Homo sapiens: one gene and its partner. The protein of the gene in region 2 purifies or fractionates together with the protein of the main gene of each other region. This does not show direct contact. Each region holds a gene or a part of one and is shown on either strand. Other genes may lie near its edges. The genes, in order: USO1 and SETD9.

Region 1 (3,529 bases), on a different chromosome or scaffold from region 2:
TTCTCCTGCCTCAGCCTCCTGAGTAGCTGGGATTTCAGGCACCTGCCAACATGCTCAGCTAATTTTTGTACTTTTAGTAGAGACGAGGATTCGCCATGTTGGCCAGGCTGGTCTCAAACTCCTGACCTCAGGTGATCTGCCCGCATTGGCCCCCCCCAAAGTGCTGGGATTACAGGCGTGAGCCACCACACCCGGCCTGTGTTTTCTTTTTAAGATCAACATCTAATCACAATAACAAAACAAGGAGTACAAATTTAGCTAATACACAAGCCACATGTAGGCTTTCCATAAGCCGTGGAACATAGGCACATTAAATCCTGTCAGCATATTATTGTGTGACAGAGACATCAGAATAAATAGCATGAAGAAAGGAATGAGGTCACATTAAGGAAAATAAGGAAAATAATGTATAATTGTGCTTTTTGGATTGTGGCCAAATTATTTTATTTTTAAACCATAGATTTTTATTTGAAGCTATTTTCATTTAATTGTATGCTTGAAGTTGGGATAAAAAATTTTTTTTTAACTTGAGCTTTGAGTTCTAAAATTCTGGTACTAATCAGACTTCTTCTGTAAAATGCTTTGTGTTTCTGTTTACTCCTTTGATTATCTGAAATGGTACTGTTTTTTTTAAGTCTCTTAAAGGTTTTTTCAGGGATAGCTAACTAAAACTATTTTTTGGATGTTAAACTATTTTTTGGCAATAACCATTTTTGATGAACAGTCTAATAAATTCATGTTAGTGTGTGTGTTAAACCTCCTGTACCCTTAACCTCCACCCCTAAATTCCTTAGGTTGAACAAGTACAGTGATTTGTCATAGAAAGAAACTATTTGTTAAAAACTCTAGGAAAGTGAGTGCTAATTTTAGATTCCTGCCTTTCACCTTTCTTTTCCTAGAATGAAATTAAAGCTCTGTCTGAGGAAAGAACTGCCATTAAAGAGCAGCTGGATTCATCTAATAGTACCATTGCCATTTTACAAACTGAGAAAGACAAACTAGAGTTGGAAATTACAGATTCTAAAAAAGAACAAGATGATCTCTTGGTGCTCTTGGCCGATCAAGATCAGAAAATACTGTCATTGAAGAATAAACTCAAGGATCTTGGTCATCCAGTAAGATTAAAATGTCTCCAAAAATGATTTGTATTATGTTTTAGTATAATGCATTTAAAAGATTTTTAATGTAACATGGAAAAGTTGTGCCTGTATTATAGGAATGGATATGTGGGTTCATGAATATGGTACCATCTATACTGTTTTCACTGTTTTCATTGAATTTACTTAATACACAGATTAGGTTCAGTTTTCAGTACTTACAGACTATTTTCTTTTGGACCGTAAGCCTAGAAAGTGAATTGATTTGATTGGTAACAAGACTGTAGTCACCCAAGCATGTCATTATCTTTTGCCATGTTTGTTTCAGATTTGTGTGTAAAGAGGTGTAGCCATTTATCAGCAAAGTTAACTGATATATCTCATTCATATTAGAAATGACAGAGAGCCTTGGCATCAAATCAAAGAAATCAGATGGCTTATATTCTACTGTAGTTACTAGAATACAAAATTTGTCTGGGCACAGTGCTCACACCTGTAATCCTAGCACTTTGGGGGGCTGAGGTGGGCAGATTACCTGAGGTCAGGGGTTCGAGACCAGCCTGGCCAACATGGTGAAACCCCATCTCTACTAAAAATACAAAAATTAGCAGGGCGCTTGGTGGCAGGCACCTGTAATCCCAGCTACTCGGGAGGCTGAGACAGGATAATCGCTTGAACCTGGCAGGCAGAGGTTGCAGTGAGCCGAGATCGCACCATTGCACTCCAGCCTGGGTAACGAGCAAAACTCCATCTCAGAAAAAAAAAAAATTATCAGTAGTATATATTGTTAAATGTTGAATGTGACATGAACAGATTTTCACAATATTAAATACGTCTTTTTCCTCTAGGTTGAAGAAGAGGATGAACTTGAATCTGGAGACCAAGAGGATGAGGATGATGAAAGTGAAGATCCTGGCAAGGATCTAGATCATATCTAGTTTTCAAATCTCTAGGAACAATAGAGATTATATCATAACTCTGAAGATGGACTCTAAACTTTGGTTTACCTCCATGGAAAATAAAGATTTAGAAACCAGGTGGAAAACATTCACTATTAAGACTATTGATATATTTTTGTAATGTTGCCACCCATGTTGAAAACCTTAAAACTGAATTTATGTAGAACACACATCTTTTATTTAAATCCATCTGAACTGTCCCAAAATGTAATTTGCAAAGAGCTTCAAACACCAAAAATATACCATTTTAAGGCATGTGGTGACAATGCTATTTGCCTTAGTTCATTCGTTGTTTACTTTGCAAAATTTGTGACTTTTAAGTACTAACACATTTGATTGAATGTGTATTGAATTGGAATTATTATTTCTAAATTCAGCATTTGAGTCCTTAGTTGATGATTTTCTTTTAAAGAAATTAGTTTATTTAAAAGCAAGATAGCCTGGGTTGGGAGTTAGTGCATATCATCAGCCCTCCATCTAATGTGATTGCTAAGATGTGCAGGATAGGACAGCTTAGAATGAGTGCCTTGACACCTACATATGGCTGCATTCCATACCTCAGTGAAGAAGCCGAAGGATGCTGACACACAGTGATGTGGAGGGCATTCCGGAGAAACTTTTGCAACAGTGTATTAATGTGATTGGTTTTCTTTTTGTTTTAAGCTAAACATCTAAAACAAATTTCAAGTTAACAGTTCATACAACTCAGATTTAGTAGTATTGTTTATCATAAAACATATTATGTTCCTAGTTTTAAAAAGACCCAAAGTATGATTAATATAATTTATTGGCATTTTTGCTGAATAGGTTTAAGTCAGATAATAGATTTTAAAAAAGCAAATGAGGCAATGTGTCAAAATTTAATGTTTCATAATAAAAATAGATACGTTGACTTAATCCTTGGTCATGGTTCCCTTTGTTTACATCTTAAAAGTATTTTATTCTTAATAAAAGATGAGGCAAGTGAAAATGATGAGGCGACTTTTCTTATTAGGGGTACACAACTATAACTGAATGTTAAAAACAATCTTCTTTAAAACCAATGATTATGATTCCCTAAGATTGGAGGGGGTTAGAAGTACAGAAGTAGAAGAGGTTGGAAAAGGGTTTGGACGTTTTTAAATTCAGCACTGGAGTTCTTGGCAATGATTTCCTGTTGAAGAAGTGGGTTTACTTAAAGACAAGATAGCCTGGGCTAGAAAATAACGTATTTATCTGCCTTCTGGGGTCAGGAATAGGACACAACTTTTGAAAGAGAAGGAAGGTCACTGTCTTGATGAAGGAGACAGCTGTGTGTTACAGAGCACTCGTGAATGCTGCACTGTGCCCATGTTCCACCACTACTGCCATCCTAAGGTGGCACTTGCCATCAGAGAAAGAACTATATTACTGTCACCAGACCAGCTCAGATAGGTGAGGTCTTCCTAAAGTTGACAACCACATAATGAACCATGAGTTAATGACTACCTTTCA
Region 2 (4,303 bases):
CAGGAGAATGAATTTTTAAAAACCTGGGTCTATCTGACTCAAATATTCACACACACACTTTCCACTATACCAAATAATATAATGTTAGTTTAACACATAACGTAGTCTATTTAGCATTCTAGTTAATGATCTTGTGCCAAGAAATTGCCTTACTTTCCAAGTGTAGAAAGGGCAGGAAGGTCTTCATTCGGTGACTTATGGGTTTAAATGTTGTCTTTTATGTTTTGATCCGTACGCTTTTTTTTTTTCTTTTTTTTGAGATGGAGCCTAGCACTGTCACCCAGGCTGGAGCGCAATGGCACAATCTCGGCTCACTGCAACCTCCGCCTCCCGGGTTCACGCCATTCTCCTGCCTCAACCTCCTGAATAGCTGGGATTACAGGTGCACACCACCACACCTGGCTAATTTCTTGTATTTTCAGTAGAGACAGGGTTTCACTATGTTGGCCAGACTGGTCTCAAACCCCTCGCGATCTGCCCGCCTCGGCCTCCCAAAGTGCTGGGATTACCGGCGTGAGCCTATCCATACCATTTTTATCCTTAGCTATCAATTAAACCAAACTGACATGTTTCTCTAGTGCTTTTTAAGTAATTTGTCAAAGTGGGTCATACTATGTTCTAAATTTAAACGTTGACAGGAAAGCTTTCCTTGAAAGAAAAAGTGCATTTATCCCAACAAATACTCCAGGATACTTTCTAACACAAAACAATTTACAAACAGTTAATTTCCGAATTAGAATTGCAAAAATCTATGGAAACTCGAGTTTCCAATTTAATCCCTTACTCTAAGGATTGCAAGGCTGGGTATGTTACTGAACTTATGTTTATCAATACGTAAGAAGCTTGGCAAAGTATAATATTAATCGTGCTGTTACCAGGATACATAGATACGACTGCGCCTTTTGGTACCAATCCTTTAGTAACGAAGACACCTTTTCCAGCAGAAATCAATGAGCTAGTTGCTTGGGCAACACTGAAACCCAAAGTCTTGTAAAGAATTTCTTCTGGTTTAAAGGTACTTTGCTGTTGATGTCTGTTTTCAAGCAGTTTCACCCCTTGATGTTCAACTGCCAGTAGGTCTTGATATTTTGATTTAACAGATTCTGGAAGCATAGACAAGATTTCTGATTGTTTATTGAAATCATTTAAGAATAGAGCCTGGAAAACTTTCAGTAATGTTCCTAGGACATCTTCATCTGAGATAACTTTGTCTTTGGATTCCTCTGGAACATATCGGAGGGTCCTGAAAATGGGAAAAGTTTCTATTCACTACCCTTCAACTGATAAAAGCCAAACTTACCTGCATAACTTCTGGGTTCCTGGCCTTAAGGAACTATAAGCTTATTCTCATGTGTGTGGAGGGCTGGAAACTAAGTTCAGAAAAGAATTGTTTGAGGGAGTTCTAGTTAGCTAACTCCCAACACTTCCCACCCAAGTAGTCAGTACTTATGAAAGGCCCATTCTATACCACATGCTGTGGGGTCCTTACATTATTCCATTTTTGCAGACAAGGAAAGCAAAATTGTTAGGGAACTTGTTCAAGGTCCCAAAGCCAGTAAGTGGGAGAGCCAGAGGCAGAAACGAAGTTCAGCTCTTTCCCGTACTACACCCAACAGCCAAGCTGAATGTCATCACAATGAGAATGAATGACCTCACATTCAATGGCTTTTTAAAAATGGCCTTGTAGTTTCAAAGACAAATTCAACATCGTATACTTTGTGACACTCCCTCCAGGACGACTAACGTCTTCAATGACTGCACCTCTTATTTCCATAATCATTATCTTTTTGTACTAACTGCATTATTTTTACTTGAACAAAAAGGTTGTAATTCCCGCCTCACGGTTCCGAGTCATGATACAACTGATCTCCTGTTTCCCTAGCATGCAACCTTCCGGAAACCGCTTTGTTTCCCTATTTGTCGGACACTGACTTCAGGGAGGCCCGGTCGGCCTCTTTGGTGAGCACGGTGTTGAGCTGATCACTGGTGCGCCCTTAATAACGCCGGCGGGACTCACCCCAATCCGAAACCCACCATCCCGACGTGCTTTTGAGTGGCGTTCTGCCCGTTCTTAACGCGCGAGCTACTGCACGCTATTCTCACAGCCGGGATGGGCTTCTTTAACCACGTGAAGTACTTGTATGAACTATGAAAATAAACCCTGGCTTGGCTTTTCTGAGGAAGTTCAAGCACCTAATTAACCCCTGGTGGAGAAAAAGCCACGCACTCTCACGCGGTAAGGGCAGTCTTTTTAAAAAGTTTCCATTTTTGCCCAGATACAAGCTCCCCAGTCAGTGCCGAACGCAACAGGGAAGAACAGGCGACACATCCGGCTGGCGAGCTCGGCCTCGCGGGCCCGGCAGCGCAGCGGACACTGGGAAAGAGGCCATAGGCCCCGCCCACCTGAAGCCACCGCCCACTTCAGGCTTCCAGCGGGCCTCGGACTCCACCAACCTCGGCCCCGCCCGCCTCTGGCCCGCGTTCCTTAAACCCCTCCGAGGCCTCAGTCCCCGCCCACCCGGCCCGCCCACCTCAGTCCCTGCCCACCCGGGCCCGCCCATCTCAGGCCGGCAGTCAGCCTCAGGCTCTCCGCTTTGCGTCCCGCCGCCGTGGTGGCGTCTGGGAACCGAAGGCAGGTGCCCCTCGTTCTGCCGTCCCGCCCTCTCACCTCGGGTTGTGGCTTAGGTTCAGTGCGATCCAGGGAACGAAGCGGTACTTGTAACGGCGCCATCGCTGCCACAGGCCCCGCAGCAGACGGCCAGGCATGGCTGCCCCGCGGGGCCGTGACCAGGACGGCGCGGGGAAGGCGGATCGAGGCCTCGGGCCCGCCCCGGCCCGGGAGGAGAGGGGGCCGCGCTCGGCCGCCTTCCCCTGGCTCCGCTCTCAGTGTTCCTGGCACCGCCTGACTTCTGTTGCTCTGGGGCTTCGTCCTTCCCCTTTCCTGACCTCACCTCTCTGAATGAGAGGCGCGTAGAGCTGGAAGGAGGTCCCCTTGACCACTTTTTCTTTCTCCGGTCGCTCGGGTGCTTCCGTGGGCGCACACAAGCGCTAGCCCTGGTTGCGGGCGAAGGGTCACCGGGCCTCAGGGGCGAACCCGCCCCCGAGACCGCGTCCCAGGAGCGGACCGCCTAGTTTCTCTGTCACGGCTGTCTGGCCTGCCCCTTTGTCCCGGCCGCGCTCTGTGTTCCATCCTCCGTCCACTTGAGCTCTGCCTCTTCCTCGACGTTCTCTCCCCTTCTCTCCGTGGCCCCAGAGCAGCCCGACTTCGGGAACCCGAGTTTCAGTCCTCCCCAGACAGCAGCCCTTCTTCTGCGTGAACCCGTGTTCCCAAAGTTACCAGTTTGGGCGTTTTGCGAATATTTACACGTAAAAAAACAAAGTGTCATGATTCCCTGTTTTCACTCGTTTTTCTCTTCATTGACCCAACCATTCAAAGGCAAAACTACATGGACAAATGTTTCTGAAAAACAGCTTTGTTGAGGAATGGTTGGGATACAATAAACTGCACATATTTAAAGTGAACAATTTGATAGGTTTTCGACACCACAGCCAAGATAGTAATCCAGCCCCTCCCCCAGTCCCCAAGCAACCACTGAGGTGCTTTTGTCCTTTTAATATGGTCTTCGCTTCAATTTGGAAACGTTTTGTCTAGAAGTTCTGCATCTGTGTTCGTGAGAGATATTGTTTCGTAGTTTTCTTGTAGTGTCTTAATCTGGCTTTGGTATTTAGGCTAATGTTGACTTCATAGGATGAGGTGGGAAGTAGTCCCCCATAGGTGAAATTTAAAAGGAACTTTACGACCGCTCCTCCCCAACACCCAGATGCATGCACACGCACACACATATTTAGAACAGGTTTGGACAAAGTTCAGTTTTAAGGGGGGCAAACTACAGGAATCCCTTAACCATATTCAAATCACCAAGTGTTTATTGACAGATAAATACGTTGGTATCATTTCCTCTATTCTTTGCCTGAGAGTGAGGTTGGATCCTAAACTATTGAAATTGAACGGCTCAGATCTAATAAAAACTCAGCCAAGGCCGGGCGCAGTGGCTCACGCCTGTAATCCCAGCACTTTGGGAGGCCGAGGCGGGTGGATCCCCTGAGGTCAGGAGTTCGGGACCAATCTGGCCAACATGGCGAAACCCCGTCTTTACTAAAAAAGAACAAATACAAAAATTAGCCGAGCGTTGGTGGCACGTGCCTGTAGTCCCAGCTACTCAGGAGGCTGAGGCAGAAGAATCGCTTGAACCTGAGAGACGGAGGTTGCAGGGAGCCGAGATCCGCCACTGCACTCCAGCCT

What was found.
Region 1: the proteins of SETD9 (region 2) and USO1 purify together in Homo sapiens (affinity purification with mass spectrometry; 3 studies listed by BioGRID and IntAct, with this or other methods). This does not show direct contact.

The regions. Positions count from the first base shown.
Region 1 is NC_000004.12:75,811,261-75,814,789, forward strand, and holds the end of USO1 (general vesicular transport factor p115), read left to right. Parts: intron 1-899; coding exon 900-1,115; intron 1,116-1,945; coding exon 1,946-2,035; 3' UTR 2,036-3,026; downstream 3,027-3,529. UniProt on the Homo sapiens protein: General vesicular transport factor required for intercisternal transport in the Golgi stack; it is required for transcytotic fusion and/or subsequent binding of the vesicles to the target membrane.
Region 2 is NC_000005.10:56,908,109-56,912,411, reverse strand, and holds the start of SETD9 (SET domain-containing protein 9), read right to left. Parts: upstream 2,817-4,303; 5' UTR 2,767-2,816; coding exon 2,669-2,766; intron 2,356-2,668; exon of another isoform or gene 2,038-2,355; coding exon of another isoform or gene 2,018-2,037; intron 1,987-2,017; exon of another isoform or gene 1,492-1,986; coding exon of another isoform or gene 1,490-1,491; intron 1,244-1,489; coding exon 876-1,243; exon of another isoform or gene 188-875; coding exon of another isoform or gene 154-187; intron 1-153.